2 separate regions of the Homo sapiens genome follow, and region 2 is linked to region 1. The links come from fine-mapping of genetic effects on gene expression. A gene starts in region 1. The other region holds a variant in brackets. All regions are shown on one strand. Distances are from middle to middle.

Region 1 (16,306 bases):
ACTCTGACTGCCATTTTTTGTCTTTCTGACACATAGAGTGTAAAGGGCTTTGTCAAATCTGGTAGTCCTAAGGCTGGGGCTGACATAAGTTTTTCCTTTAACTTGCAAAAGGCTTGCTGTTGCAGAGGTCCCCATTCAGAAGGCTCCTGGTCGCCCCCCTTTGTAACCCCATACAATGGTTTGGCTAGCACCGCAAAGTTTGGAATCCATAATCTGCAAAATCCCACGGCTCCTAGAAATACCCTTACTTGCCTTCTGGTTTTAGCGGGAGACTTGCTTAGTAAGCTGAGAGCCACCATTTCCTTTACAAAACAGGGCTCTTTGCAGGCTGAAGTTACAGGCAACAGGAGTTATCATGGCCCTTACAGTCCCACGAGAAGAAGAATGGAGACTTTTTCTGAGCCAGGTCAGGAGATAAAACTGGCTCTAGCTAAGAGTGTGGGCAGAGGACAATCCTCCGGGCTGGCCACTGCAGTAGGCAGTAGCTTAGGTTCCGGTAAGCTGCAGGTGACCTGCTTTCTTCCTGACCCCAGGCTGCGCTCCCCTTTCCGGATAGTGAATCCCAGGTAGCGTACCTGCTGTCTGCAGATCTGAGCTTTCTTCTTGGACACCTTATACCCACAGTCCTCCAGGTGTCAAAGCAGGGCATCCGTCCCTTTTGCACACCCATCTGCCATGGAGTCTCCTAGCAGAAGGTCGTCCACGTACTGGAGCAAGATGCAGCCTAGGTCTTTAGCAGGAAACTTCTGGAGGTCTCGAGCCAACGCCTCCCCGAAGATGGTGGGGGAGTTTTTAAACCCCTGGGGAAGCCGAGTCCAAGTGTACTAAGTAGTGACACCTGACCCCGGATCTTCCCACTGAAAGGCAAACAGCTTTTGGCTCTCAGGAGCTAGCCTGATGCTAAAGAAGGCATCCTTCAAGTCCAGACAAGTGAACCAGCTGTCCTCAGCCAGCAGCAATCCTAACAGTGTGTAAGGGTTAGGAGCTGTTGGGTGCAGAGTCACTGTAGCTTGGTTAACCAAGCGTAAGTCCTGTACAGGTCGATAGTCCTTGGTCCCTGGCTTGGGGACAGGTAGGAGGGGGGTGTTCCATGGATACTGGCAAGGAACTATAATTCCAAAATCTTTCAAGCGTTTAAGGTGAACCTGTATTCCTTCAAGAGCTTCTCTGGGAACCAGATACTGCTTTTGTCTAATTGGCTGGGCCCCAGGCTTAATTTCTATGAGTACAGGGGCTTGACTGATCGCCAGCCCGGAGGATTGTCCTCTGCCCACACTCTTAGCTAGAGCCGGTTTTATCTCCTGACCTGGCTCAGTTAGAAAAAGTCTCCATTCTTCTTCTCGGCGGACTGTAAGGACCATGGTAACTCCTGTTCCTGGTAACTTCAGCCTGTAAGGAGCCCTGTTTTGTAAAGGGTGGCTCTCAGCTTACTAAGCAAGTCTCTCCCTAACAAAGGCAAAGGGCAGTCAGGCATTTACAGAAATTGATGAGTCACTTTGTGTCCTCCCACCGAGCAGGTCCACGGTAGGCAGAAAACCTGCTTGGCGGAGACTCCCGTTGCTCCGATTATATCAATGGTTTTCTTAGATAAGGGGGTCACTGGGGTGGTTACTACTGAGTGGCACCGGTATCGACCAAAAACTTAATGTCCTTGCCCCCTATTGTCATCCTGACCATGGGCTCCTTGGGGGCATTTGAGCCCAGTCTCCTTCAGTCTAGCAGCCCTTCGGCCAGATTGCACAAAGTCCCTTGGTCTTTATCTGTGGTCTTTTGCTCCGCATCACCTTGCTTCTCCTTCAGTTGTGGACACTTATCTTTCCAAGGTCCTATTTCTTTACAGTAGGCACATTGGTTACGCTGCAGACGCGAGCAATTGGACTGGGCATTCCTCCCGGAACCCCCCTTTCCCTGCCCTTTGTGGGGGATCCCTCTAATTGCTGCAGTCAGCAAATTAGCGTTCTGTCTGGCCTGGCATTCGCCTTCCTTACAGAGGAGACGTTACAGCAGACCAATGCACCAAAAGTGGAAGTCGCAGCAGAGAGTTTAATAATTGTAGGGCAGCCAAATGAGGAGTTGGGAGGAAACCTCAAATCTGCCTCCCCGAGAGGTTTGGGGATGGGGTTTTTAAGGGATCTGGCTGTGTGAAGGGCTAAAGTGTGGGGATTGATGATTGGTTGAAAAGTAAGGGGTCAAGTCATGGGACAGGGAGAGGAAGAAACTGCATTCCTGTGTTTAGTCGGTTCCCTGGCGGGGATCTTCAGACCCACTGGCGTCAGCCATCCTGCTGGAATTCAGGATCTGGAAAACACCTTAAGCAATTCTTGGGTTAGAAGATCCAGTGTCAGAGATTCTGCCTATAGGAGCAATGGGGGAGCAGGTGGTCGGCACACTACAGGACTCTTGGTTAGTTAGAGCTTCAGGGAAGTGGGTCAAAGGGCACCACTGCACCCTGCTCAATGTCTAACTGTAATTCTCCCTAAACTCTGGCTTGAAATTCTCACTAACCCTGCGAGGGTGGTTTCAGAGCCATCGGGGCAAGGGAATTCTTGCTCAGCTGGCTTTACAGCATTCTTGCTAACACAGCAAAGGTGGGGGATGAGAAACTCTGTCAGATAGTAAGAATGATCAGATGTCAAGAGTTGGGGGATTCTTGCTAAACTGACTTATCAAGACTCTTTGCAAAGACTGGGCTGGGCAGGACAGAATGAGGGCCAAGGTCAATGCCTAGTGAAAACGAGGGCTCAGAACGGCCTGACTAAAGTTTGGTCAAGGAGGTAGTCTTATCACTCTCCGCTACTCAGCGCATTCTCGTCTCGTTCAGAGTGAAATCCACTGACACAGAACCCATTAAGAACCTCCACGTTCTGCCCCCTTGCCTAGGATCTCCTACTGTTCTCTCCCTTTTCTTTCTGCTTCAGCAACAGTGTCCTTATTGTTCCTTCAACAAGCCAGGCATGCTCCCACCTCAGGGTATTCGAATCCGCTTTTCATTCTGCCAGAAAGACTTCCCACAGATACTTAAATTGGCCCATCCCTCATCTTCTGCAGGTCTTTCTTCAAATGTCACCCTCTCAATGAAATGTTTCTTAACCACTTTGTGTAAAATTGCAAACTCTCCCACCCTCCATGTTCCTGTTCCCTTTTTAAATTCTTGTTTGCACTTACAGGGAAGTTTAAATTTTTCCCCTGAAGTTTCGATAATTTGAGTCTATAAAACAAAATGATACATAGCTGAATAGGAAAAAAAGGCATACAAATTTTATTAAAGTTCATACAAGCACAGGAGTGATACAACATACAAAAACTCAAAGAAAGGCAAGGTAGTTGATATTTTTATACCATCTTGAAGTTACAGGAAGAACAGGGGCTTGGATCACGGCTAAGGCGGGTTATAGGAGGGAGAGAAGAGGAAAGACCTGAAGAAAAGGTAGACTCATTATGCAAATGAAGCTGCACAGGTAGCAGCCTAAGAGCAAATGGTAGCCCGTGGTTAAAGTTTGCACCAGATTTTCAAAGGTGTCAGACTCTCAGTTAGTCTTTCTCAGATCTGGACGAGGGGAGAGCCTCAGAGAAAGCCTATTCACATCTGTTGTTGACTGCACTTCATTTCCTCAACAGATGCAAGTCTCCTCTACAAAAGACAGCTTTTCAGGACTATTCCTGTCTGCAAGCTCTCTGAATAGCCATCTCAAGATATGTCAGGGAAGTATGTTTTGGAGTGAATTATTTTGGTTGCCTTCACACTCATCTCTATCTCAAAACGTATTTATTCCTCTTATTATCTTTCCTCTCTCTCTTCCAGTAAAATTCAAGCTGCATTTGTGCACAGGTTTTGCCAGTTTTGCCCACTGGTGTATTTCCAGAATCTGGCACAATGCTAGGCACAGGATAAGTGTTCAACATAATTTTTGTTGTTGCTGAATGAATCAATAATGAAATCCTATACAGTAATGAAAAGGAATGAACTTTGCATGTATCAAGGTAGACTAATCTAAAAGTGTTTGTGTTGAACACATATATACACATGATACATATATGCATGTATATACACATGATATATATACATATATACACATATAGGCATATACACATATATATGCAGAAATCTTTATATAAAGGGTATCTGCTATATACATACATATTGTATATTGTATAAAAGTTGAATACAATGTACAATTGAAACTATACAATTGTATATTGTATGTATATAGCAGATTACCTTTATATACATACATATTGTATATTGTATGTATATAGCAGGTTGTCTTTTTATAAAGATTTAAAATGTTGCAAAAGTAAACAATGTTTAGGGACACATGCATGTGGAGTAATTATCAAACAAAACAAAGGAATGCTGAAAGCAACTCAGGAAAATGACTTGGGAGCACTGTGAACAAGGCTTCCAAATTTTGGGTAAATTTCTCTTTGGTAACCCAAGTGTTGGGTATGTGGGTATTTGTTTTATTATTATTAAACCATGGGCCTCGCACAGTGGCTCATGCCTCTAATCCCAGCACTTTGGGAGGCTGAGGTGGGCAGATCACGAGGTCAAGAGATCAAGACCATCCTGATCAACATGGTGAAACCCCATCTCTACTAAAAATACAAAAATTAGCTGGGCATGGTGGTACGTGCCTGTAGTCCCAGCTACTCAGGAGGCTGAGGCAGGAGACTGCTTGAACCTAGGAGGTAGAGGTTGCAGTGAGCCAAGGTCGCGCCACTGTACTCCAGCCTGGCGACAGAGTGAGACTCCATCTCAAAATAAATAAATAAATAAATAAATAAAAACAAAAATCTGTGCCTATGAATACATTATCTCCTGTGTATGGTACACATTAAAAGAATTTAAAATAACATAACTATCTTGTGGTTTTGATTTGCATTTCTCTGATGATTAGTAATGTTGAACATTTTTCATATACCTGTTGGCCATTTGAATGTCTTTTTGAGAAATGTCTATTCAGGTCCTTTGCCTATTTTTTTTTTTTTTTTTTTTTTTGAGGCAGGGTCTCACTCTGTCACCCTGGCTGGAGTGCAGTGGTGCTATTTTTGCTCACTGCAGCCTCAACCTCTGGGTTCAAGCAATCCTCTGCGCTCAGCCTCCTGAGTAGCTGGGACTACAGGCCTGCACTGGCATGCCTGGCTAATTTCGTTTATTTTTTGTAAAGACAAGGTCTCACTATGTTGCTGAGGCTGCTCTGGAACCCCTGGGCACGAGTGATCCATCCACTTCCGCCTCCCAAAGTGCCGGGATTACAGGCATGAGTCATTGTGCCCAGCCCTTTGCCCATTTTTAATGGGACTCTTTGTATACTGTTGTGGTTTTTTTTGTTTTGTTTTTTCTTTGAGATGGCATCTCGCTCTGTCACCCAGGCTGGAGTGCAGTGGCATGATCTGAGCTCACTGCAACCTCCACCTCCCAGGTTCAAGGAATTCTCCTGCTTCAGCCTCCCAAGTAGCTGGGGTTTCAGGCATGCACCACCACGCCTGGCTATTTTTGCATTTTTAGTAGAGACGGGGTTTCGCCACATTGGCCTGGCTGGTCACAAACCTGTTATTTGAATTCTTTGTATATACTGGGTATTAGTCCTTTGTTGGATGAGTAATTTATAAATATTTTCTCTCAAGTTGTTGCTTCACTCTGTTGTTTCTTTTGCTGTGCAGACACTTTTTAGATTAATATAGTTGTTTATTTTTCTTTTTGTTGCCTGTGCTTTTGAGGTCTTAGCCACAGACCTCAAAAGCACAGGCAAGAAAAAGAAAAATCTTTGCCTAGATCAATGTCCTGAAGAGTTGTCCCGATGTTTCCTTCTATCAGTTTTATAGTTTGGAGTCTTTAAATCTTTAATCTATCTGGAGTTGACTTTTATATATGTTGAGAGAGAAGGGGTCCAAGTTCATTCTTCTGCATATTATTATCCAGTTTTCCCCAGAACCATTTATTAAAGACGTAGTCCTTTCCTCATTGTGTGTTCTTGGCACCTTTGTTGAAAATCAGTTGGCTGTAAATGGGTGCACTGATTTCTGGGTTCTCTTATTCTGTTCCATGGGGGGGTGTGTGTGTCTATTTTTATACAAATATCATGCTCTTTTGGTTACTAACACTTTCTAATTAGATATAAGCTCACTCCAGTTAGAATGATTATTATTATAAAGACAAAAAAATGACAGATGCCAGTGAGGATTTGGGGAAAAGGGAACTCTTATACACTATTGGTGGGAATGTAAATTAGTACAGCCACTATGGAAAACAGTGTGGAGGTTTCTCAAAAAACTAAAAATGGAACTACCATACAATCCAGCAACCCTACTACTGGTAAAGGGAGAGAAATCAGTATATGAAAAGGATACCTGCACTCACGTTTGTCACTGCACTATTTGCAGTAGCCAAGATATAGACTCAACCTACCAGCAATAGATGAATGGGTAAAGAAAATGTCATACATAGACACAATGGAATACTATTCTGCCATAAAAATGAATGAAATAATGTATTCACAGCAACATGGATGGAGCCGAAGGTCATTATGTTAAGTGAAATAAGCCAGGCACAGAAAGACAAGTACTGCATGTTCTCACTTATATTCGGGAGTTAAAACACTTGATCTCATGGACATAGACAACAGGAGGATAGATACCAAAGGCCAGGAAGGCCAGAAAGGAAGGGGAATGAAGAGAGGTTGGTTATGGGTACAAACATACAGTTAGATGGAAGAAATAATTTCTAATATTTAATAGCAGACTAGGGTGACTATACTTGGCAATAATATTGTGTATATTTCAAAGTAAATCGAAGAGAGGGCTTGAAATGATACCAACGCATAAAAATGATAAATGCTTAAGGTGATGGATACCCCAAATACTGTGACTTGATGATCATTACAGTCTATGCACGTAACAAGCACTCACATGGACCCTATACATTATGTAAATTATTTTGTATCAACAGAAAAGTAATCACAACCAGCGGTGGGAGCTACAGCACACTGATCCTCCTAAATGAATCTAATTTCCGGTTTTGTTTTTTCAAACTACTCCGCTTGCTTAACAAGTGCGCGGGCTGTAGGCAGCACGGCCAGCAGCTGGAGACCTCCTGCCTCGTGTGCGGCGTGCGTACTCCCTCGCACTGCAGCCCCTCCGCGCACTGTCGCCTTTGAGAGCTCTCGTTGGCGGAGGCGGTTCCTCTCCCGGAGTTCGCAGCGCGCACCGCGGCGTCCCCTGGGAAGTGTAGTCGGCGTGGGGCCGGAGGCATGCCGGGAGTGGTAGTTCTCCCGCGGTTGGCGGGGTTTCGGGGACAGCTCGCGGCCTTTCGGGGGTTCTCCTGGCTTGGGCCATCCAGGCTTGGCTAGGATTGCCGGCCTGGGGTTGAGGCGCTCGCAGTGGTCTCTTCCGGGCCGGGGTGGATCCGGGCCTCTCCAGCGAGTGGGCGGCGTGCAGCCTCGTCTGGGCTTCTGGGACCAGCCCTACGCGGCTCGGGCCCCTTGGCCACTGGGTCCCGGGGCGCCGTCCGCGAGCGGCCTGGACTGCCGGAGACCCGCGGGAGGGAGCGCCTCGCCAGGTGAGCTGGGTGCGCCGGGCCGCTGGGGTGGGGATGCCAGCCTTTTGTCGTTGTTCATTCTGCGATTTTCTTCTGTGCATTTTCTTCTGAGTAACGGAAATAATAAAAGCAATAGCTGATGCCCGCCGAGAGCGCTCGGGTGCCAGGCACCAGACTAGCGCATCGCCCGAACGAACTCCGCGCATCCCTGCTAACAGATAGGGTGGCGGTACGCTGTTCCCGCTCTGTCAGGAGGAGACCGAGGCAGAGTGGCGAGGTCATTGCCCCAGATGTAACTGGGGCCTGGGGCTAGGATCAGGATTGCCTTCCCGGCCCTTATGACTTTGGGCAGGTCACGACCTCCTGGTTTTCAGTCTCCGTAACATCTGTAAATGTGAAGATTGAAAATACTGCGTGGAAAACACTCACCGCTTCCTGGGAGGAGGTGCGCTTCGTCGCGTAACCGAGGCCTTGTGTGGCAGCTTCCCCTGGGCTGGTCGAGGCACCCGCTGGAACTGGCCTGGCAGAGCCCCAGGTTGGCTCCATGCTAGGGGGCACCCTGAGTCGCCGCTGCAGATCGCGGGCCTGGAGGCCCTCACACTTGCCCGGCTGCCCCAGGCAGCCTCTTCCCTTGCTTTCTGTGGGGCGGGCACGGTTTCCACCTCTCCCACCTGGGGTTGGTGTTTGGGCAGCGACGGCTGTTTCTGGTTGTGGGTGCCATTAGAGGCGGCACCTGTGGAGTATTAGGAGGGACAGCAAAGCTCTGGCTTTGGGTGGGGACAGTGCCTTAATCCTGTTACCTTGGGTAAAGTGTGGTAAGGCCCGACGAAGATCTAGTAAAGAGGCTGGGAAAGCTGAGTGGTTGGATTATGCTCACAGTTTCTTGGGGAGAACACAGCACTCCACGGAAGGACCACTCAGGGCGAGCAGTGGGGTCTGTCACCAGGGTAGGGATGCGGGGAAGCCTCTTTATCGTGGCTACCATAGGGAGGAAAGGGTGAGGCAGGGCAGGCAGGATGAGGATCAGCTAGCTAGGCTGGGAAGTGGCGCCCCAGGAGACTGGATATTCATTGCGACTTTTAGGTGTGCAGTTCAAAGCTAGCGAAGGACTCCAGACATCCATGGGGGAGTCACGGTTTGCCTAGAGGTAGCTGAGAGGCCCGAAGGTGGAAGTTAAAGAGTCCAAGTGCAGAAATAGAAGTAGGGTTGGCACATTGCCCTAGTAAACTAGTAAACACTCTTCTTGCTTTACATCATTACGGGGGGTGGCTTTTTTGAGACCTGATGGACATTATGGGCGGTTGTAACTTCCTCTCTCCAAGCCATCTCCTGACGCCAGGGTTCCTCTTGACACCTTTTTCCTCTGCAGACCCACCGTGTCCACACTCTGCTCTCCCTGGGCAGGAAGACTGAGGAGGAAGGGATGGCTGTGGATCTGCTGTCTGCTCAGGTGAGAGTGAGTGAAGGTTGTCTTTTTCATCAGTTGGCTTCTGGATTCAGAGATGGTAGACATGTTTCCAGACTTTGTCCAGGTACTTTTTGGTCCAACCAAAACGATGAAGAATCCGGAACCTCAAAAGTTTTTCCCAGTGTCTTGGGCTTAGCAAGGGGCTGCTGAGGAATGTGCCTCTTTTGTCCCGAGACTACTCTTAATTCACCCCGCTCACTCTGTGATCCACATTTGAGGCAGTTCTGAGCATATGCTTCCCACTACACTGGTGCTGGGTGGGGAGAATGGGGCATGAAGCAGTCTCTGTCTTCATAGAGGATATAGTCACACTTGGGGCTAAGATGTGGAAGGGCCGGAAGACAGCCTCCACAAGCATTTATTGAGCCCTATGTACAGGATCCTGTGCAGCACACGGGATGGAAAGAGGAAAGCTGTCATTTCCATCTTCTGGGAGTTCGTGGTATCGATCTTAGGAAACATGATTAAATGTTCAGGGGAAATATCCCAGAAGTGGGGGCATTCTGAGTTTATACTGGAGGCCAGGACTGATATTGGTGCTTAGAGAAGACTAAGGGCATCCCAGAAGGAGTTCAGCGTGGTTTGGGCTTTGAAGCCCAGAAGGAGGCAGGCCTGGGGCCTTCCCCTCCCAGTGCAGCGGGGATGTTAAGCTGTCCAAATGTCCATCTCACCTGTCTGATTGATTCCTCTATTTCCTTCTCTGATTCTTTTCTTTTTTCTCTGCTAGTTTAGCCTCTCTACCTGGGCTCTTTTTTCTTGTTCTTTCCCCATTTAAGATCCATTTTCATTACTTTAACCCTCAGCGTTCTGAGTATCTTCCCCAAATCTGTCCTCAGGCCTGACCTTTTTCCTAGCATTCCTGTCTGTCATTCCGACGTGGAAGTCCCATCTTTCCTTCAACACCAGCTCCCTTTCCTCTAGTCCCCTCCCTTCTGTGCATTTTTTCTGCCATACTCCAAAGCCTATTCTTCATTGACTCCTTTTCCAATAGCCCATAGGCTGGAAATGTGGACTCAGGAGCTTGACTTCATGGCTTCAAATCCAAGCTAGGGATGTAGCCCTGAGCAAGTTATTTTATCTCTCTGTACCCCATTTCCTCAATTTTGGTGGGGTTAATAATATACATACATGACTGAGTTGCTATGAGCATTAGTAACAGTAGTAGCTGGGCACAGTAGCTCACGCCTATAATCCCAGCACTTTTGGGAGGCCAAGACAGAAGGATTGCTTGAGCCCAGAAGTTTGAGACCAACCTGAGCAACATAGTGAGGCCTTGTCACTATACAAAATTAAAAATAAAGTAGCTGGGTGCAGCAGCACCTATAGTCCCAGATACTAAGAAGGCTGAGGTAGGAGGATCACTTGAGCCCAGGAATTCGAGGCTGCAAGTGAGCTATGATTGTGCCACTGCACTCCAGCCTGGGCACGAGAGTGAGACCTTGTCTCAAAAAGAACCCCAAAAAGTAGTAATTACAAGCATATTTGCTGTGAGCCAGGTTCTATGTATTACTATGTATAAAAATATCTATTCCTTTCATATAGTAAGTCATTTAATCCTTACAAGAGGACTGTTAATATCTGGATTGTACAGATGAGGAGACAGGCACAGAGAAGCAAGTAACTTGATCAAGGTCACACAGCTGGCTTTTGATCCCAACAAGACAGTCTATACTGTTAGCATCATGCTCTGAAAAAGTACATTTAAAATGCTGAGAGAAGTGCATGGCACGTATTAAGACCTCCATAAATTCCAGCTGTTACTATGATCAGTATCAGTAACAGCAGCAGCAGCACTATTTTAGGACCTGCCAGATTTGGTGTGCTTCGCCTCACTAGGCCTGATTCCTTAATTAGAAGCAGATGGATATTTCAGGAAACCAAGACGTAAAGACCAGCAAAATGCAGTGCACAGGAATATCCAGCTATTACCTGGGCTATCTGCTGCCCAAAGGTAGGGTTGTTCGCTATCTGAGCTCGCCTACATCCACAGCAGGAGAGACTTACTTCATTTTAGCCAAGGGCAGAGGTAGGTTTGTTTGCAACTCAGAGCCAGTTTTTGTTGTTGTTGTTTTTGGAAGGGGTGACAGCTGATTCAATATCTAATCCTTTTGTGGGTTTTTGTTGTTGTTGTTGTTGCTTTTTTTTAGAGACAGAGTTTTGCTCTGTCGCCCAGGCTGGAGTACAGTGGTGCGATCTCGGCTCACTGCAGGCTGGAAGGAACTCTTGGGCTCCTGCGATCCTCCTGCCTTGGCTTCCCAAAGTGCTGGATTATAGGTGTGAGCAACTGTGCCCGGCCAATATGTAACCCCCCTTTTTTTTTGGAGACAGAGTCTTGCTCAGTCGCCCAGGCTGGAGTGCAGTGGCGCCATCTCGGTTCACTGCAAGCTCCGCCTCCCGGGTTCACGCCATTCTCCTGCCTCAGCCTCCCGAGTAGCTGGGACTACAGGCGCCCACCACCACACTGGCTAATTTTTTTTTTTTTTGTAGAGACGGGGTTTCACCATGTTAGCCAGGATGGTCTCCATCTCCTGACCTCGTGATCCACCTGCCTTGGCCTCCCAAAGTGCTGGGATTACAGGTGTGAGCCACCGCGCCCGGCCTATGTAACCCTTTTGATTAAGTCTCCTGGGGACCCAGAGTGTCCCAATCACAGGTCTCATTACCCCATTTAAGTCAGTGCAATGGTGATATCCAATATCACATTCTGTCCTCATTAAGGGTACCGAGGGAGAAATTTCTCTCTACTTGTTAGGAAAACTGCAAACAAGCATATTTTTTGGAAAAAAATAGGTTCTTTGCAATATTACATATTTCCATGTAATATATAATTTATTGTCTGGGGAAAAGGCACATGGAATTTGGTATTGATTGCTTAATAGTCATAATTTGTTAATTACATATTTTTCTGCAGTAAATAAGTACTTTTTTGATATTGTCAGTATTTTTAAAAAGAATAATCTTTATTTTTTTTACAACAATTTTAGACGAGAGAATAATTACACAGTTATCATACCCTGCACCCAGCTTCCCGTTATTCCCTACATTAATTTGGTATATTTGTTACAATTAACGAGCCACCATTGGTATGTTATTATTAACTGAAGTCCATGCTTTATTCACATTTCCTTAGTTTTTACCTGCTGTCCTTTTTGTGTGCCAGGGCCCCCCAGGATTCCACATGACATTCAGTTTCACATCTTCTTAGGCTGCTGTGGCTTTGGGGCTTTCTCAGACTTTCCTTGTATGTAATGATCATAATAGTTTTGAGGAGTACTGGGTTAGGTTGTTTTTTGTTTTTGTTTTTGTTTTTTTGTTTTTTTTGAGGTGGAGTCTCACTCTGTCACCCAGGCTGGAGTGCAATGATGCGATCTTGGCTCACTGCAACCTCTGCCTCCTGGGTTCAAGTGATTCTCCTGCCTCAGCCTCCAAGTAGCTGGGATTACAGACATGTGCCATCACGCCCTGCTAATTTTTGAATTTTTGATAAAAACGGGGTTTCACCATGTTGGCTGGGCTGGTCTCGAACTCTTGGCCTCAAGTGATCCGCCTGCCTGGCCTCCCTAAATGTTGGGATTACAGGCAGGAGCCCCCATGCCCGGCCCTGATTAGGTATTCTGTAGAATGCCCCTCCATTGTGATTTGCGTGATGTTTTTTCTCATTATTAGCCTGGGGTTGGGTTTTGGGGAGGAAGGTCACAGAGATGAAGCGTCAGTCTGATCACAGCATACTACAATTGCATACTAATAACATGACATCCCTGTTGCTGTTCACCTTCATCACCTGACTGAGGCACTGTTTGTCAAGTCTCTCCACTCTACAGTTACTTTCTTTTTCTGCCTTCCCATACTGTATTCCTTCGAAAGACGACACTGTGTAGCCCACACTTACGGCCTGGCAAGACAGGCACCACTCCTAGAGGTGAAGAATCAACATACATTATTTGGAAATCTGTATGGAGGATTGTTGCTTCTCTCCATTTATTTATTTATTCAAACATTCATTTATATCAGTATGGCAACCATGGATCTTTCTGCTGTCTGTACATATCAATTATGCTTTAAAAACTTTTTTTTAGTGGTTACCCTATAGTTTTCAATATAAATTTACAACTAATCGAAGTCCACCTTCAAATAACATACTGCACCATGGGTAGTGGAGGTGTCTTATAACAGAGTATTCCCCTCTTCCTTACGGCATTGCTGCCATTCATTTCACTCATCCATATGCTATCACCACCCAATACACTGTTACTATTATTAATTTAAGCAAATAGTTATCTTCTAAATCAAGAGTAAGAAAAATGTTATCATCATTTGTTCCTTCTCTATCTTCCCTCCTGTCTTCAGGTAGATTCAAGTTTCTGACCTATTTTATTTTCCTTCCCCATGAAGAACTTCTTTTACTATTACTTGCAAGGCAGGACTGCTGGTAATGAATTCCCTCAGTTTTTGTTTGTCTGAGAGAGCTTTACTTCTCATCCTTTTTGAAGGATAATTTCCCTGGATATTGAATTCTACATTGGTGATTTTTTCCCTCAACAATTTAAATATTTTGTTTCACTCTCTTCTTGTTTACATGTTGCTAATGGGAAAATCCACTGTCATTCTTATCCTTGTTCTCTATAGGTAAGATCTTTTTCCCTGTCTTCTTTCAAGATTTTCCCTTTGACTTTGGTGTTCTGCAGTTTTCATATAATATGCCTAGGTGTAGATATTTTGGTAGTCATCCTGCTTGGCCTTCTCTGACTTTTCTGGATTTGAGGTTTGAGATGTGCTGCTAATTTTGGAAAATTCTCAGCCATTATTACTTTGGATATTCACTCTGCTCTGTTCTCTCTTTCTTCTCCTTATGGCATCCCAATTACATTGTAATTTTAAATGATCAAGTAGAATTGTATTTTTAACATGGAAGGATATACATGCTATATAGTAAGAAGATTTGGAATATGAAATGACAGTAATCATTTATCATTTCTCACAGTTTCTCTGGGTTAGGAATGCAGGTGTGTGAGAGAAACAGCTTACCACACAAAGTCGGGTGTCTCAGCTGAGAGATTTAAAGACTAAAGGCTATAGAATCGTTTGAAGCCTCAGTCGTTCACATGTCAGGTAGTTGATGCTTGCTGTTGGCTCATTGCTGTGATCACAGATAGGGCTATTGGATGGAGCATCTACCCATAATCTCTCCTTGTGACTTGGGCTTACAACATGGCGACTAGGCTCCAAAAGTGAGCATCCAGTGAGCCAGGTGAAAGGTGTATTATTTTACTACTTTTTCTTGGAAGTTACATGCATCATTTCCATTGAATTCCACTGGACAGCTTCAAAGGAAGGAAACATAGAACTCACTTCTTGGTGGGAGAAATGTCAGTGTCACATTATACAAAGAGCACGTAAGATGAGAGAGAAATTGATGTGGTCATCTTGGGAAAGTATAATCTTCCACATTTGTCAGAATTAAAATATGTATAGCCTGTAATCCCAGCACTTTGGGAGGCCAAGGCAGGCGGATCACCCTGAGGTCAGGAATTCAAGACCAGCCTGGCCAACATGGCAAAACTCCGTCTCTACTAAAAATACAAAAATTAGCTGGGTGTGGTGGCGCACGCCTGTAATCCCAGCTACTTGGGAGGCTGAGGCAGGAGAATCGCTTGAACCTGGGAGGCAGAGGTTGCTGTGAGCCAAGATGGCGCCACTGCACTCCAGCTGGCGACAGAGTGAGACTCTGTCTCAAAAAAAAAAGAAGAAGAAGAATGAGGTTTGAGGCTGGACATAGTGGCTCACGCCTGTAATTTCAGCTCTTTGGGAAGCTAAGGTGGAGGAATGGCTTAAGGCCAGGAGTTCAAGACCAGCCTGGGCAACATAGCAAGACCCTGGCTCTACAGAAAAACAAGAGAATTATCTGGGCATGATGGTGCACATCTATAGTCCCAGCTACTCGGGAGGCTCAGGTGGGAAGATCACTTGAGCCCAGGAGTTCAAGGCTGTAGTGAGCTATGATTTATTGCACTACTGCACTCCAGCCTAGGCAACAGAGTGAGACCCTGTCTGTTTAAAAAAAAAGATTTCTCTATGTGGATGTGATAAAGATCCATGAAATGCTAGTAAAGCAGGATTGAGAATTTTCCCATTAAAAAAGGATACATGTGTAAAGCACTGCTAGTTACCTGTAGAATGGGGCCGCTAATTGGAGTTAGGAGAGAATCCCTAACATTGCACTGCGTGTTCTTTTGCATCCTTTCTATTTTTTAGCACGCGTCTGTTTTCATATTGTTTAACGAATAGTCAAAAGAACACGGTGTGTGTAATTGGATCTAAAGTCTGGAATACATTTCTAAAAGAGGAACAAAAGTTGTCTTGAGTAATAGGATTTAGTATGATTTACATTGTGTTTTTGTTTTCAATTTAGACATTTTTTTCTGAAGTTTAATTTGTTTAATTTTAGTCTCTGATTATGCTTAATTTGTATACTTTTTAAAAAGCGAATGAAATTTTAAAAGAAAAAGAATGCTTTTTTTTTTTTTTTCCTGGAAGTATTCTAAGGCCTAGGGGAACGGGATTGGTGGTAAAGACGGAAGTTGGGTTTGCTGTGAGTGTCCTGTTAACAGCAACACGGAGCCTGTATTAGTGTGCCAGGGCACCATAGCAAAATACCAGAGACGAGGTGGCCTCAACCATGGAAATGTGTGTTCTTGCAGTTCTGGTGGCCAAAAGTCCAAGATCAAGGTGTGGGCAAGTCTGGCTTCTCCTGAGGCCTCCTTGGCTGCTTGATGGCTGCCTTCTCGCTGCCTCCTGCCACATGGCCTCTCCTGCGCATGAGCGTGTCCGTGTCCTGATCTCCCCTTCTTAGAAGCACATGCCGGTATTAGATTAGGATCCAGCCTAAAGGCCTCATTTTAACTTAATTACCTCTTTAAAGATCTTGTTTCCAAATATTATTACATTCTGAGGCATAGGGGTGGAAGCCAAAAATAAAATTAGAAGGCCCCCTGCAGCTGTCTGAATGGACTTCCTCCTTGGCCCTTGAAATTTAACCTGAAAGACTGGTTCAGGCCGTGACAGGAAGTAGGGGTTGGACAAGCCTCATTGTACCCTCCAGCATTAATATCTACACAAACCTTAAATCTGATAAGAAACATTTACAGTCTATTCTCTCTAAAGCCTGCTACTTGGAGGTTTCATCTGCCTGACAAAACCTAGGTCTCCACAACCCGTTATCATGACCCAGACATTCCTTTCTACTGATGATAATTCTTTCAACCAACTGCCAGGCAGAATATGTTTACCAAAAATACAGAAAG
Region 2 (16,306 bases), 63 kb before region 1:
CAGGGTCTGTGTTTCATAAAATAGCCCTGAAGGATGTCATCAAGGTGTCCTCGGTCCAGCCTTGGGGAAAATGAGCAATCCTATTGTAAAGTGAGCCATCTGTTCCTGCTGGATTCATCCAGATCCACAGGTAGGACTGGGGGTGCAGGGGCCTCATCACTCTGATCACCAGGATGGTATATTCCGTATCCTTGGTTTCTCTCCCTCCCACCCTCACCCTCAGATTAGAATGTCTTTGGCAGCACTAGAAATACAGGCACTAAATTAAGAAACAAAACCAAAAACCCAACAATTCCTCCCCGTCCAGTGAGTGGAGCGTGCTTTCCTCGCACGCCATCCCAGTCAAGCGCTGCTTGGAGGGACGCGTCCACAGATGATCGGACTCATAGGATCTGGGGATCTGAGAAGGGATCTGGATTATGGCACCAATTACACAGATGCAGAAAATGAGCATCCCCAAGAGGGGGTGCTGGGGAGACGTGTGGGGTGGGGGATGGAGTGCCCCTGGACTCACCGTCGATGGAGGCCCTTTTGGGCAGGATGGTGATGGCCCCAACGGCCACGTCCTCCAGGCTCAAGATGGGTGAGGTCTTGGCTCCCCAGCTGTCTGAGCCGACCCACAGGAAGTGGCCGGTCAGGTTGGCCTGGCGAGCTGCCTCCAGGACCCGCCTGGTAGGAGCAGGGCTGGGGTGAGGGAGGGCCTGGGAGCCTCCTCCAGCTCGGCCCCCATCCCTTCCCACTCTATCCATCTCCCCTGCTCTATAATCACTCACCAGATCCTTGTTTCTCAGGAAAAACGGGGCCGGGGGCATTTAGGGCACCTTCCCTGGGCTTTCCTCTGACCCTAGGCCTGCCCACTTGCTCTGCCCACTGTAACCCACTGTTCAGGGGGTTCAGAGGGACTCCTTGGGGGAAAATCCAGTTCGAAGCCAGCCCCTCCCCACATGCCTCCACCAGCGTCACACCCAGCCTCCTAGGCTGGAGATGAACTCGGGCCGGTGGGTCTCGGGCTGGGGTCCGCAGCCTCTGTATGGACCCTGGGCTCCTTCCCTCACAGCTCATTTTCTGCACTAGGTTCTGCCCACAGGTCCCTCCCCGCACCCCCAGGAGCTGTAAACACAGACACATGTTCTGTGCGCTATTCAGTCTGGGCTTGTGGCATCTCCCCAGACCAGGCTGCTTCTGAGCCTGGGCACCAGACTCAGAGGCAGCAGCAGGGAAGGTGGGGGGTGCGGGGAGCAGGGGAAAGGGAGGCAGGGAGAGTGTGTAAGGTGGCGATGTGCAAGAGGAGGGGTGGGACCCTCAGGGAGAGCCCCAGGGGCCCGGTGATTGTGCCACTGTCCCACCTGATGTCATCCTCATTGGCAAAGATGATGATGCCCCGGGCGTTGGGCGTCTCCATGAGTCTCCTGATCACCTTGCTGAACTCTCCTGGCTTTGGTTCCCTGGGAATCTTGATAGACTGGGCAATACAGACCCCCCCTGGGCGTTGGGGGTGCCAGAGTCAGCTTCCGTCCCACCCACCCACACACCCACCTGGCCACCGCTGCAGAGGACTGTGTAGGCTGGCTGAAGGGTCTGCAGGGGTGAAGTCTGGCCTGCACCCTCCGCCAAGCCTGAGGCAGGGCTGAGTCGTCCAAAACAAAGAGGTCCCGCCCACATGGAGCACCAGCCAGGCAACCTCGGCCCAGCATGGACCTGGGCCCCCCATCTTTCTGCTTCTGCCCCAACTGAGGGCCCCGGGCCCACACTATGTAGACTCCTTGGTGCCTCGGAGCCCCCAGCTCACCAGCCTCTCGGGAGATCTGAACGAAGGCCTCAACCCCACTTTCGCCATAGTTGCCCTCGGAGGCCAGCGTGGACACATAGTTCCATCCCAGTGCCCTCACGATGTCCACCATGGCCTGCGCCTGGTAGGAGTCGGGTGGCACCACCCGGGAGAAGAAGTCATAGCGTGTGGAGTCGCTGAGCTCCGGGGCTGTGGAGGCATAGCTGATCTGGGGTATCTGTGGGGCAGGAAGGACAGCTGGGCTGTGGATGGAGGTCAGTAACTCAAGAGAGGGAGGGTAAGGGGGGCCCAGGACACGGACGGGGCACAGAAGGTGTGTGGCATGGACCTGGGACACAGATGGGAGATGGAAGGGTTGGGGTGGGGACCTGGGGCCAGCTGGAGCAGCCACCTGGAAAGGCTGGAAGCTGTGGTGTTTTGCGAGTGGGCCTGAGAATTCCGTGAATGCTGTGCAGGTGGGAGGTATGCAGGGCTGGGGAGAGGGCAGGACCGCCACATATACTGGTACAAGCTGTGTCCTGAACAAGGACCCCCAGCAGAGGGCCTGCAGCCCATCCAGCTGCATCTGCCTGTCCTAGTCAGGCCCAGGGCAAAGCACGTTTTCTTGATTCACACCAAGGGGTGGTCCGCAGGGACAGGCAGCCCTAGGAGGGATTAGGGCAGACAGGGGAGCAGCAGGGGATGTTCCATTTAAAGCTGTGTCTGGCCTAGGATGGGGATTGTTGGAAACTGGGTTTCTCTGCATGCATTAGAGTGATTAACAGCAGAGACCAGAGGCTGAACTGACCGGGGAGTGTGGAGGCAGAGACACGGGGCTGAGAAGGCCGCCAAGAGGGGGCTATGGGGCTCCAGCGCAAGAGGGGCTATAGCAGGAGCTGGTGTGAAGGCCAGAGAGGGGGAGTTTCTGGAAGGAGGGAGGGGGGCTGGTCCAGGGTTGTTTGAAGCAGGATAGAAAGTATAGAGACAGCATGAAAAGGAAGCCGGGAGTGGCAGGGAGAGAGAAAGAAAGAGGGAAGGTGGGGCTGGAGAGAAACAAGAAGGAGAGAGGGAGAGAGAGAGAGAGAAACAACTGAGGAGACCGAGAGACGAGAAAGGCCCAGTGGCCACAGCTCAGTGAATAATGCTGTGGTCCTCCCAGCTCTCCTGGACACTTGAGTTTGGGAACAACCCTCCCATGCCCCCTGGACCTCCTGAGGGAAGTTAATTTAAAATGCCTGCCAGCACGGTCATGTGGCTGGGAAATGAATGTAGTTCTTTTAGACCAGGAATTGCAGCATCTTGCCTGTGGCTGTGTTTTGCACAGTTTTTATTAATGTTTGCATTTCTAGCCGGGCAGCACAACCTCAATCTGGGCTGAGCTGGCAGCAGCGGGCCCTGGGCTCACAGAGTCCTGCCCACCTGAGTCCCCAACTGGGCCCCTGAAGGCCTTGGGGTCTGGAATCTCTGCATTCGACCTAGAGGACAGAGACAGAAACTAGAGCTCTAGGCAGGGCCGGGGACACATACAGGTGGGTGAAAAACCCCTGGGCGGCCGCACAGCCTGTCTGGTGCCAGCGTGGAGATGTCACATCAACACTGCCAATCCGAGGAAACAGGGATGGGGGCTTTCATGTGCGCAGACGATAGGGAGCGGCCCCGCACGCCTGGAACAAACACAGACGCTGCGCCCGGGAGTCGGAGAAGCTCTCAGGAAACAGAAGTTCCTCTCCTAGGTAGATGGAAGCCAGGCCTTCCTCCTTCACAGAGAGCCGGATGCACACAGGCCCCTCCCGCCACAGAACCCCAGAAAAACTGTCCCACAACCCCCAGTGAATGACCAAATCGAAAACCCCCAAACTTGTATGCCAAAGCCCTCCTAATCCCGATTCTGCTGGCCCCTAGGACTGCAAGGAACACGCTGCCCCTCACGGGACAGTTCCCTACATTTGAGGACAGAGCAGGGCCAGCCCGGGCACCTGCGCAGGGCAGGGTGCAGGAGACCAGAGCTCAGAAGGGAACGCCCCGCCCTGCTCTCAGATGCCCCTTGAGGGAGAGTTCAAGGCATTTTGAAAATAAATTTAAATGATCAAAAAAGAGAAAGACCAGACCTTTCAGGCCTATCCATCCCCCATAGCAGCCCAGGGACACGCCCCAGTTGCTGCTCTGGAAGAAGGGCCCGGGTTCCAAACAAAACTCAAAGTTGCAATATCACTCGAGCGCTCCGCAGGCCCAGGGGGCAGGAGCACCTTGTATGGTTGCAGGGGTGTGCCCAGAACAAGGGCACCCGAGCAGGCTGGCAAATGGGGGCTGAAGTCAGGCCGCCCTCCCCAGCCAACCGGCCAGAGGCGTAGGTGGCACCCGCCCGGGAAGGGGCGCCCTCGCGGGGCGGGGTAGACATGGGCGGCTGGAGTGTTTGGGTGGAGCCGATTCAGGCCTGCGTCGGGCTCAACTGACAGGGCTTCTTTGACGCTGTGTGAATTCGAGTGATTAAAACGGAGACTCTTTCAGAAGAAGTAAAGGAAGGAGACTTGGGCCACCCCAGGGCGAGGACGGGAGAGGGACGCTGGACACCGAGCCCGGCCCCGCGGCCCTCACCGCAAACAGGCGCAGCACGTTGGCGACCATGATGGAGACGGAGCTGGCCGAGGCGCCCACGACGGCCACGACGCGCTCGGGGGGCGCGGGGCGCAGCGGAGGGACGCCTCCCGGGCAGCGCACGCCCACCTCGTCGCCGTCGCCGCGGCCGCGGATCAGCGCCTGCACGAAGCTCAGCGCCTGCTCCAGCGCGTAGGTGTCCCGCGAGCAGGTGTCCAGCAGCCGCGCGCCCAGGCGCACGCCGGGCAGCAGCTCGGGGTCGGCGTTGACGCGGTCCAGCGCGTACAGCATGGCCTCCAGCCGGTGCACGCCCTGCTCCTTCTTCAGCTGCCCGCACGCCCGGCCCGCCGCGCCCCGCGCGTGCACCGGGAACAGGCCGCCCAGCGTCAGGCCGCCCGCCAGGCGCACAGAGCCCGCCGCGCGCGCCAGGCCCGCCTGCGCCAGCCACGCCAGCGGCAGCAGCGCCACGAGCAGCGGCTCCCGGGCTCTCCGGGGCCGCGCCATCGGCTCGTCTAGCGGGCTGCGGGGAGACAGAGGGGCGGGGAGCGCTCTGAGGGCGGGGGAAGGAGAGCGCGGGCTCGGGGCGCGGGGAGGGACACCGGGGTCCTGGGGAGAAGGCGCTCGGGGCGCGCCTTCCACTT[C/T]GGCTCTGGGGAGTTAGCTCAGCCGGCCTGCCCGGGCCTCCGTCTCGCTCTTACAAGCGCCGAACCCTGTCGCCCGGGGTCCCGCCCGACCACTGCCTCCACCCCTCCAGCCCTGCCGCTTCCCGACAGCTTGGCCCCTCTTCCTCGGGGTCCATCCCCAGCGCACACCCAGGCTCCCGCCCCAAGCCAGTCACCTGCGCCAGCCGCTGTCGGTTCAGGACAAGTCTGTGACAGATGCGGCCGAGGCCCTGAGCGAGAGAGGATTTAAGGATTCTAGGGAGGGATGAGAGACCGCTCCGAGGGTGGAGACCCCTCCTGAGTGTGGGGGGTGGCGGTGCTGGCTCTCCCCGCATCTCCTTCCCCTCCCTCTCCCAATCTCTGGGTCTGTTTTCCTGTTTTCTTGTCTTTGGTTTGCGTCTGACTCAGACTGTCTGGCTGTCTCTGGGGCTGTGTCTGACACAATCTCTGTCCATCTCTATCTCAGTCTTCTTCTGCCTCTAGGTCTCTGTTTCTCAGTCTCTGTCCCTGGCTTTCTGCCTCTGTCCTCTTCTTGGAAATCTTTTCTGTCTCTGTCCCTTCCTGTCTCTCCCTGCGGTTATCTCTCTCTGTCCCTGACCCCTTTTCTGTCTCTCTGTCTCTGTCCTGGCCACCAGTGCTCCTGACTGCAGTTGCCTAAGGTATTCCCCAGCTTTCTCCTTGCAGAACCCTGCAGGGGGCAGGGGCTGCCTGAGCTGGGAGGGCCTAAGGAAGAGGAGGAAGAGCGAGGGGCAGGAAGGGGCCAGGAGGGAGAAGCCTTTAGTATTAGCGAACTTACAACACCCTGCAGTCGAGAAACAGCCCTCGAGGAGTGAGTTGAGTTGCCCAAGTGCATGCAGCTGGCATGTGTGGGCATCAGGATTCACACCCAGAATGGCATGAAACAAACAGCCCACACTGCCTTGGATGGAGGGAGGGGAGGGGCCGGCTTTCCTCGCAGCTCCCACTCCCGCCTATTGCTTGGGAGGATGGAACCCCGCGGGGTCGTTCTGGCTCCGTATAAAGTCTCCTCGGGCTCTGGGTCTGAGGCAGCCACTCGAGCTGCGGTGCTCACTGTGCCAACGCTCTCTGCACCTAACTCCCCATCTCATCGTGGAGGCCAAGGTGAGGGGGCTTGGCCAAAAGATGCTTTTATCATCCCCCCATCCGAGGCCCAGGATTTGGCTCTCTGATGCCAAGAGAGCAAAGGGCGTCCTGGAGACAGGTGGTGAGCTCCTAGCCACAGGGATTAGCAGGCTCCTCGTCCGAGGGCCTGAGCCGGCTTGGGCTCCATTAGACAGGCTGGATTAGGGTGGCTGCGGGGATTTGGACAAGGCTGGTAGAGGGAGCAAGCAAGAAACATGCCACCTTTCTCTCTTCCCCCGCCTCTCCCAGGCCCCGATAGTTTCTACTGCCAGAACCACTTCTCCTGGTGGAAGCCCAGAGTCAACAGGCTGGGCCTAGCCCTGCTCCTATCCATTTTAACAGTGGGAAGGGTGGGGAGCTTGGCTGGTGCCAGGCCCTGAGCCTGACATTGCGAAGGACTGCATAAACTGGGTTTGGGAGGTGGATGGGCCCTTCCCTGTTCAGGACGAGCCTGACAGCTCCCAGCACACAGCAGCCTCCTGCTTGGCATGACCAAGGCAGCCACTGCCCCTGTCTGGAGGACAGACCATCAGGAAGCGGGGGCAGCAGCTGGGGGACTGGCAGGGGGTCCTCGCCGTGTAGGAGGGAGGCATGCACACCTGTGAGCAGGGGGCTGGAGGAGAAGGGGAGGGGGGTGGCAGGATTTTAGACCTGATGGAGATTTGGCTCTTGGAGGGGTGGAGGATGGCATAGCTGCTGGGGCATTCCCTGAGAATATGAGGACCAGAGACACAGCTGAGCAGGTCAAGGAGGGCAGAAGCCAAGAGTTCGGGTTTGGGCAGGAAAGTGGAGGCTTCGTGGTTCATGAGCCTGGAACTGAGGGAAGAGGCCAGGGCGGGAGAGAAAGCTGAGGTGGGATCGCCACGGAGGCGTTTAAAGCCGTGGGACGCAGGAGTTCCCTGGGGCTGAGAGTGTGGACAGACAGTGAGGCTGGAGCCCCAGGAACCCCAACATGCAGGTCTGAGCAGAAGTAAGGAGACTGGGAGGGGGTGGCCGAGGAGTTAGAGGAGAAGCAGGAGCGTAGGCACCAGAGGGGCCCAGAAACAAGGATTGAGGAAGGAGGGAACATTCAGCATAATTTATTCAGCCCCGTGCAGGGGCAGAAGGCCAAAGTGCACCTCGCACAGGCCATAGGGCCCTCTTACAGCATCCTGATACAGCTGCTCAGGCTCGATGAGGTAGCACAGAATTTGTACAAAATGCACAGGACGTCATTTAAAAGGTTGCCCCAAGAAGAAGTCCTGCTGTTCCCTGACCCTGGGACTGTTTTCCTCAGCTGGGCTGCTATGGCAGAGTTCCACACAGACAGTCAAAGAACAGAGATTTTTTTTTTTTTATGGTGAAAAGCTTTAATAACAGACAATGTGATTTCATACGCAACCAATCAGCAGATTAACAAATCATTTAACTTTCTTTATATAAAACCAATATTCCACTCAAGAAAGATGAACCAGAATGGATCCTTTTACACTCACCAACCTAACTGAGTACAAATGAAGTCCATGATGTACCCCGTTAGCATGCTACATGTGTGTCAGTAAAACAAGCCCTCCCCCACCCCAAGCCCTGGCCCCCTGGCAAACAGATAAATGACGTGCACTGCGTGATGATACCATAGGTGAGAACTTTGGTTCATGCAGTCAGCTGGCATAGAGGTTGCACCCCAAAACCCCCGCCCTAGCACCCATAGTCAGTCGGTGGTGGGGGCTCATGGTGTCAGCTGTGTTCCTTCCACACCAGGTGAATACTGTGGTCAGGAATACTGGTGGCAAAGGCCAAGCCCGTGTCATTGTGCCCATCTGCTCCATTCAGCCAGGATGCTTCGCCTGCCAGGAAGCTTGAGCCTCTCTTTGATTTCTTGTACTCTGGAAGAGGCCAGCGATTAATGAGGCTCTGGGTCTGCAAGTCCATGATGTACAGGTGGCAGCTGCCAAACAGTAGGGCAACAGTATTTCCAAAGCCAAGCAAGGCCAAGTTTGCTATCTCAGGAGTCTTGATGACCCTGAGAATATCATAACTGTTGGCAAAGTCCCGCTGCTAGAGACGGAGGGCTGAACTACAAACAGTGTATTTGCCATCAACACGAAGTCTTGGCTGCAGGCGGATACTTCTAACCTCAGAGACAAGAGGATGTCTTTAAGCACTTGCAGTTGATTTCTGTCCCAGTTGGCCAAATCTTAATCTCATATTTGTCTGCACTTAAGAGGAGGTATCCTTCAGGACTGTGTGCAAGAGAGACTTGACTTTGCACTTCTGCAGAACTACCTTGGTGACCCATGGCGTGTGCCCAGTGAGTGTGCTCAGGCATGCCCCAGTAGATAAAGTCCATCCTTTCACAGTGAAGGCCGCAGAGCCGCTCACCAAGGTATCATTGTAGTCCACGCTAAACACTGCCCGCGTGTGCCCGCGAAAGTGCCGGATCCTGGCTCCGGAACTCCATTCCCAGCAAGCCACAGTGTCGTCAAAGGAGTCTGTCACAAGCTTCTGTTCATTGAACTTCACCACGGCACAAGTGTGGGTCTGGATGCCACAAACGCACTGCCCTGTGGTCACACCCCATAGCTTTGCAGACCCTGTGGCTGTTTTCCTCAGCTGGGCGGCCATAACAAAGCCCCACAGACAGAGGGTTAAAGAACAGAGATTTGTCTTCCCACTGCTCTGGAGGCTGGGCGTCTGAGATCAGGGTGCCATCGTGGTGGGTTCTGGGGCGGGCCTCTCCCTGGCTTGCAGACCATCCTCTTCTCCTTGCGTCCTCATGTGGCCTTTTCTTGGTGTGTGCAGGAGGAGGGAGAGTCCTCTTGTCCTCTGCTCATGAGGCCACCAGGCCTATCGGATTCGGGCTCCACCCTCGCGACCTCATCTAACCTCATCCCCTGTTACAGCTCCGTCCACTCTTACAGCACTGATATTGCCAGTAGGGCTTCCGCGTAAGAATTTGGGGACATAACTCCCTCCATAGACCCTCTGACTGGGCCTGAGGCATCCAGGGGAAAGAGCAAAGGGCACCCAGTGGGACTATAGGGGGGTGGTTCAGTGCACACTCAGGGCTACAGAGCCCAGGTCTAAATCTTGGCCTGGTCACTTTTTATCAAGGTGACCTTGAGCAAGTCTCTGTACCTTTATTTAGCCTCAGTGTCCGTATCTTTTTTTTTTTTTTTTTTTTTTTTGAGACAGAGTCTCGCTCTGTCGCCCAGGCTGGAGTGCAGTGATGCAACCTCCGCCTCTCCGGTTCAAATGATTCTCCTGCCTCAGCTTCCTGAGTAGCTGGGATTACAGCCACCCGCCACCACACCTGGCTAATTTTTTGTATTTTTAGTAGAGATGGGGTTTCACCGTGTTAGCCAGGATGGTCTCGATCTTCTGACCTCATGATCCGCTTATGAGTGTGGCATAGAAATGCAAGTGGGCCGGGCGCGGTGGTGCGTGCCTGTAATCCCAGCTACTTGGGAGGCTGAGGCAGGAGAATCACTTGAACCCAGAAGGCGGAGGTTGCAGTGAGCCAAGATCACACCACTGCACTGCAGCCCGGGTGACAGAGCGAGACTCTGTCTCAAAACTAACAACAACAACAACGAAATGCATGAAGTGTAGGTTAATTTGGAATCCATAATAAAATAAGTGTCTATCCCTAAATAACCCGTGGTACAGTTTTGCCTGTTTGTGACATTATATAAATGAAGAGGGAGTATTTTCTTTTTTTGAGAGGAAGTCTCGCTCTGTCGCCCGGGCTGGAGTGCAGTGGTGCGATCTCTGCTCACTGCAAGCTCCGCCTCCCGGGTTCACGCCATTCTCCTGCCTCAGCCTCCAGAGTAGCTGGGACTACAGCCACCCGCCACCACACCTGGCTAATTTTTTGTATTTTTAGTAGAGATGGGGTTTCACCGTGTTAGCCAGGATGGTCTCGATCTTCTGACCTCATGATCCGCCTGCCTCTGCCTTCCAAAGTGCTGGGATTACAGGCGTGAGCCACCACGCCTGGCCGAGAGGGAGTATTTTCAAAAGGAAAATCATAAAGTAATTTGATCAAATCTGAATCTTAGCCTAAGTAAAAGGCCCAAACAGCTTTCCAAAGGAATTGAACGCATCATATTGGGGTTTAGAATTCATCATTTTCATGATACCAGTCCATGTGGTTTTTATTGCTTGGCATTGGCATTGGCTTGAAGTTCAACGTGAACACCAACTCTTGGGCTCACAGTTTTGATAATGGAGGAACTGCCTCCGTTTTGAAACAGAAATGTTTAAGTGCACAATGCACCAGACACTGGTTTATAAAGGCTGTGTTTTATTTAAGCTGCCTTTCCACAGGGCAATGAGGGATTTCAAACATGAAATATATTTGAGAAACTTCATTTTAAGGAACCCATTAGTTAGGGGATATTGTTTTGTTTTTAAACAGGAAGATCTTTAACCAGAACACAAATTTTCTTCAAAATTAGAGAAATCAAAGTACTATACAACAAGGCCATAGAATATATCTCCGAGAAGTCATCCCAGATCTACAGTGAACATCTACTCAGAACATGGCTCAGAAAACTTTTTCTTTTTGACTTTTTCGGGGCTTTTTTTTTTTTGACAGGGTTTCGCTCTGTCACCCAGACTGGAGTACAGTGGCCCAATCATGGCTCACTGCAGCTTCCACCTCCTAGGCTCAAGCAATCCTTCCACCTCAGCCTCCCAAAGTGCTGAGATTGCAGGCACAAGCCACCATGCCTAGCCAAGAAAACTTTTTCCTAAAGGGACATGTGTAGGCTGAATAATACCCTTGCTTCTGTCGAAGTTCTAATTCCCAGAACCTGTGAGTGCTGCCTTATATAGCAAAGGGGACTTTATAGACGTGATCAGATTAAGGTTGTGAGATCCTGAATTGTCACGTGGGCCCCATGTAATCGTAGGGCCCTCAGGAATAAGAGAAGGTGCCATGAAGATGGCAGCAGGGAGTGATGCAACAATGCTAAATGTAGCCTTTGAAGATGCAGAAAGGGCCAAGGAATGCCCCTCTGACACCTGGGAAAGGCAAGGAAGTGGATCTCCCCGAGAGCACCTGGATGGGGGCAGTCCTGCTGACACCCTGATTTCCATCCCCTGAAACTGGTTTCAGACTGTGAGAGAATCAATTTGCGTTGTTGTCATGAACTGAGTTTGTGGTAACTTGTTACAGCACCAATAGAAAACCAGTGAGTAAACATGTTTGGCTTTGCCCCTCTGTCATAACTTTTGACCTCTGCCCCTGTGGCACAGACACCATCACAGGCAATAGCTAGAGTCAGCCTCGCGGGCTCGGCCAGGGATGGAAGCCACTCGGCAGCTGTGTGACCAGAGTCAGCCTCGCGGGCTCGGCCAGGGATGGAAGCCACTCGGCAGCTGTGTGACCAGAGTCAGCCTCGCGGGCTCGGCCAGGGATGGAAGCCACTCGGCAGCTGTGTGACCAGAGTCAGCCTCGCGGGCTCGGCCAGGGATGGAAGCCACTTGGCAGTTGTGTGACTGGGATTCTCATGATCAGCATTGGCTTAGCTCAGGATCCCCAACGACCGCGACCACTAAGCCTGAGACAGGGCTCTGGAGGGCCAGCTGGAGGCCACAGCAACACACACACACACACACACACACACACACACACACACACACCCCCCAAGAGAAAAAGCCTGGGAATGATGACACTACAGAGTTGTGGATAAAAGACAGTCTTTTCAATCAATGAAGTGGGAAAATTAGGTGCCCCTATGAAAATAAAAGGAACTATACCCCTACCTCATTCCACACACCAAAATCAATTCAGATGCATTATTTACCTAAATGGGAAATGCAAACTGTATTAGTCTGTTCTCACACTGCTATAAAGAACTACCTGAGATTAGGTAATTTATGAAGAAAAAAGTTTTAATTGACTCACAATTCCACATGCTCTACAGGAAACACGGTTGAGGAGACCTCAGGAAACTTAAAATCATGGCAGAAGGGGAAGGAGAAGCACGCGTGTCTTCACATGGCCAGAGCAAGAGGAGTAGAGAGAAGGGGGAAGTGCTACACATTTTTAAACAACCAGACCTTGTGAGAGCTCGCTCGCTATCATGAGAACAGCAACGGGCAAGTCTGCCCCCATGATCCAGTCACCTCCCACCCGGCCCCACCTCCAATACTCGGGATCACATTTCAACATGAGATTTGCATGGGGAACAGAGGCAAACCATATCACAAACCAATAAATAGGTCAAAGATTGTAGGTGAGAGTATTTCATGACCTTAGGGAAAGATATCTTAAACTGAACACACAAAAAAACTAATCATAAAAGAAAGGAACTATACATTTGACAACCTTAAAATTAAGAACTCTCTTACAGACAGCATAAGGATAAGGATGAAATGTTGATAATGATCAAAGCTAGATGATAGGTTTATAAGAGTTCATAACACTATTTTTCTAGAAAACAAAACAAGAGGAAAAGACTCCATAAAGAGAGGGAAAAGGCAAGCCACCAAGTGGGAGAAGATATTTATAACTCATATAACCAACAAAGCACTAGGCTACAGCATGCAGACTGAACTTCTATGAATCAATCATAAAAACAAAAATTACACATTAGAAAAATGGGCAAAAGATTTGAGCAGTCAGTTCACAAAAAAGGGTATCAAAATATCTATAACAATATGAAAAAATTTAGCCTTGTTAAAATTAGGGAAATGTAGATTTAAACCACAATGAACTATCCAGCAGAAAGGCTAAAATTGAAGAGATTCAAAATTCCCTGTGTTAAGGGTGATGAAACATAGGAATCCTCATGCACTGCCAGTGGGAGGGTAAATTGGTGCAATTTGCAAGAACACAGTCTTGAATTATTTACTAAAGTCGAAGATACACATGCCCTAGGTCTCAGCAATTATATTTGTAGGTATATTCCCTAGAGAAATGAATGCACAGATATATGCATATGAACATTCAAGGTACTGTTATTTATTAGAGAAAAAAATGGAACAAATGAAAGGTACATTGTAAAATGAATAAATAACTTGTGGTATTCCATGCACTGAAATGGAATATTATATAGAAAAAGGAGTGAGCCAAAATGACAAGTAATAGCACAGATTAATCGTCCATATAATTGAACACGCATACTGTAATTCCATTTTTCATAATATCCATAAACAGGCAAAGTAAATCACAGTATGTAGAGATGCACACTTCCGTAGTAAAAGCACAAAGAAATGCAAAGAAGGATCATGACTGGGAGGTGACTTGTGAGAGCACTTGTGGGTTGTGAGGGATTATGCAGGTGTTTTTTATTTTATTTTATTTTATTTTATTTATTTATTTTTTTGAGACGGAGTCTTGCTCTGTCGCCCAGGCTGGAGTGCAGTGGCGCGATCTCGCCTCACTGCAAGCACCGCCTCCCGAGTTCACGTCATTCTCCTGCCTCAGCCTCCCGAGTAGCTGGGACTACAGGCACCCACCACCACGCCTGGCTAATTTTTTTGTATTTTTAGTAGACACGGGGTTTCACCATGTTAGCCAGGATGGTCTCGATCTCCTGACCTCGTGATCCGCCTGCCTCGGCCTCCCAAAGTGCTGGGATTACAGGCCTGAGCCACTGCGCCCCACCTATGTGGGTGTTTTATTTACACTCTTCTATTACACTGAACATTCATGGTCTTGCATTTTTTTTAAATTTATGTGTTACTTTTCACAATTTAAATATTTTAAAACATAAAAAAGTATGACAATTAGAAAACAAAAAGTAAGATGTGAGAACTAAGTTGAAGTATCTTCGTAACTCAAATAAATGTAATTCTGCTAAATGTTTCAGTTTAAGAGACAAAAATTTCAAGTTTTTGTGAAACAAAATCCAGTTTAATGTTGCTTATGAGACTCCCCTAAAACATAAGGCTGCAAAGTTGCCCCTGTCAGACCCATGTGATGGTTCACTGGAAGACCCTACTTGAAAGGTGTCTTTATTTTACCTAATTCAGTGCTCCCCCAGTGCTAAAAGTTAGAAATAAAAGTGGGGACATTGTTACTGACCTTAGAGGGATAAAAATAGTTATAAGAAAATACTACAAACAATTGTGTGCTAACAAATTAGATAACCTAGATGAAGTGAACACATTCCTGGGAACACACAAACTACCAATACTGACTCAAGAAGAAAATAGAAAATCTTAACAGACCTGGCCAGGCGCAGTGGCTCATGCCTGTAATCCCAGCACTCTGGGAGGCTGAGGCGAGCAGATCACGAGGTCAGGAGATCGAGACCATCCTGGCTAACCCAGTGAAACCCCATCTCTGCTAAAAATATAAAAAATTAGCCGGGCGTAGTGGTGGGCGCCTGTAGTCCCAGCTACTTGGGAGGCTGAGGCAGGAGAATGGTGTGAACCTGGGAGGCGGAGCTTGCAGTGAGCTTAGATCGCGCCGCTGCACTCCAGCCTGGGTGACAGAGCAAGACTCCGTCTCAAAAAAAAAAAAAAAAAAAAAGAAAATCTTAACAGACTTATATTGTTACCAGCAATCAAAAATCTCCCAGAAAGGAAAAATCTTTCTTTCACTGGGTGAGTTCTAGCAAACAGTTAACATCCATCCTTCTCAAACTCTTCAAAAAAAAAAAAAAACAAAAAAACAAACAAAAAAAAACAGAACAACAACAACAAAAGAAGAGAGAACACTTCCTCAACCATTCTATATATGAGGCCCGCATTAACCTGGTACCAAGCCGGACAAAGATATACAAGTAAGCTATAGACCACTATCACTTACGAATATAGATGCAAAAAATCATCAACATAATACTAGAAAACTGAATCCAGCAGCATGTAAAAAGGATTATGCACCACGAGCATGCGAGATTAATCTCAGAAATGCAAAGGTGGTTCAACATATGAAAATCAATCACTATAACTCACCACATTAGTAGAATGAAGGAAAAAAGCCACACGAGCATCTCAATCAATCTCAATCAATGCAGGAAAAGCACTTTTTAAAAATTGAACATACTTCTAGAATAAAAACACTCAGAAAACTAGGAATAAAAAAGGGACTCATTCAACACAGTAAAGGGAATTTATGAAAAACTCATGGCTAACATACTCAATGGTAAAAGATGAAAGCTTTCCCCCTAAAATCAGGAGCAACACAAGAATGCCCACTTTCACCACTGCTATTCAACATTGTACCAGAAGTTCTATCCAGAGCAACTAGGCAGGAAAAAGAAATAAAAGCCATGTATACTGGAAAAGAAGAAGTAAAACTCTCTATTCAGAGATGAATGATCCTTTATTTGGAAAAATCACACAGAATGTACAAAAAAAACCCTACTATACTTAATAAATTAATTCATCAAATTTGCAGTGTATGGGACCCATATATGAAAATAAGATATATTTCTATACATCAGCAATAAGCTCAAAAGTAAATAAAAATTAAATTAAGTAAATTAAAGTAAATTAAATAAATTAAATTAAGCTCAAAAGTAAATTAAAAACAAATTCCTTTCACAGCAGTATTCAAAATAATAAAATACTTAGCAATAAATTTCACCAAGACAGTGAGAGACTTGGGCACTAGTAACTATAAAGTAAGGCTGAATTAAATGAAAGAAAACTTAAAATAAATAGAAAGATACCCTGTGTTCATGGATTGGAAGATTTAATATTTTTCAGAAATGGCAAAGCCAATCCTCACATATATATGGAATTGCAAGGGGCCCTGACCAAAACAGTGTGGTATAAGCGTAAGGATATCTAGATCAATGGAATAAAATTAGGAGTCCAAAAATATATTCTAACATATTTATAGTCAATTGATTTTCAAGGAAGGAATCAAAATCTACAGCCAATTGATTTTTGACAAGGGTGGTGAAACCATTTAATGTGGAAGAAAATGGTCTCTTAACAAACGGTGTTGGGATAACTGGATATACATGCAAAAATATGAATCTGGACTCTTTCCTCACATCATACACAAAATTTAATCAAAATGGTTCAAAGACTTCAATGTAAGATTTAAAACTATGAAACTCTTAGAATAAAACATAGATGTAAATCATTATTCCCTTGGATTAGACAACAATCTCTTAGATATGGTATGAAAAGCACAAACACTCCAAGAAATAATAAATTGGAAACTTTTAATTAAACAAAGTAAATTAAAAAC

Direction of the effects. Alleles are on the strand shown, and positions count from the first base shown. SD is a standard deviation of normalised expression in the study named.
For the expression in vagina of the gene that starts at base 7,265 in region 1, C is the low allele of the variant in region 2 and T is the other (small effect, 0.26 SD a copy in GTEx).

The links. PIP is the estimated chance that this variant, and not a neighbour inherited with it, causes the effect.
Region 2: its variant is the best candidate, but not a certain one, in a credible set for the expression of ZNF354C in vagina (GTEx, PIP 0.51).

What each region holds. Positions count from the first base shown.
Region 1 is chr5:179,053,109-179,069,414 of GRCh38, forward strand. It overlaps ZNF354C (zinc finger protein 354C), which reads left to right and starts at 7,265. Exons shown (of 5, transcript NM_014594.3): 1 at 7,265-7,558; 2 at 8,907-8,987. The coding sequence starts at 8,961. RefSeq lists an enhancer at 7,584-8,119.
Region 2 is chr5:178,990,078-179,006,383 of GRCh38, forward strand. GRM6 (glutamate metabotropic receptor 6) reads right to left here and starts at 5,243. Exons shown (of 11, transcript NM_000843.4): 1 at 5,199-5,243; 2 at 4,364-4,883; 3 at 1,790-2,006; 4 at 1,347-1,482; 5 at 515-669. The coding sequence starts at 4,867. It also overlaps the pseudogene LOC100288803. The variant C/T (reference allele first, on the strand shown) is at 5,005.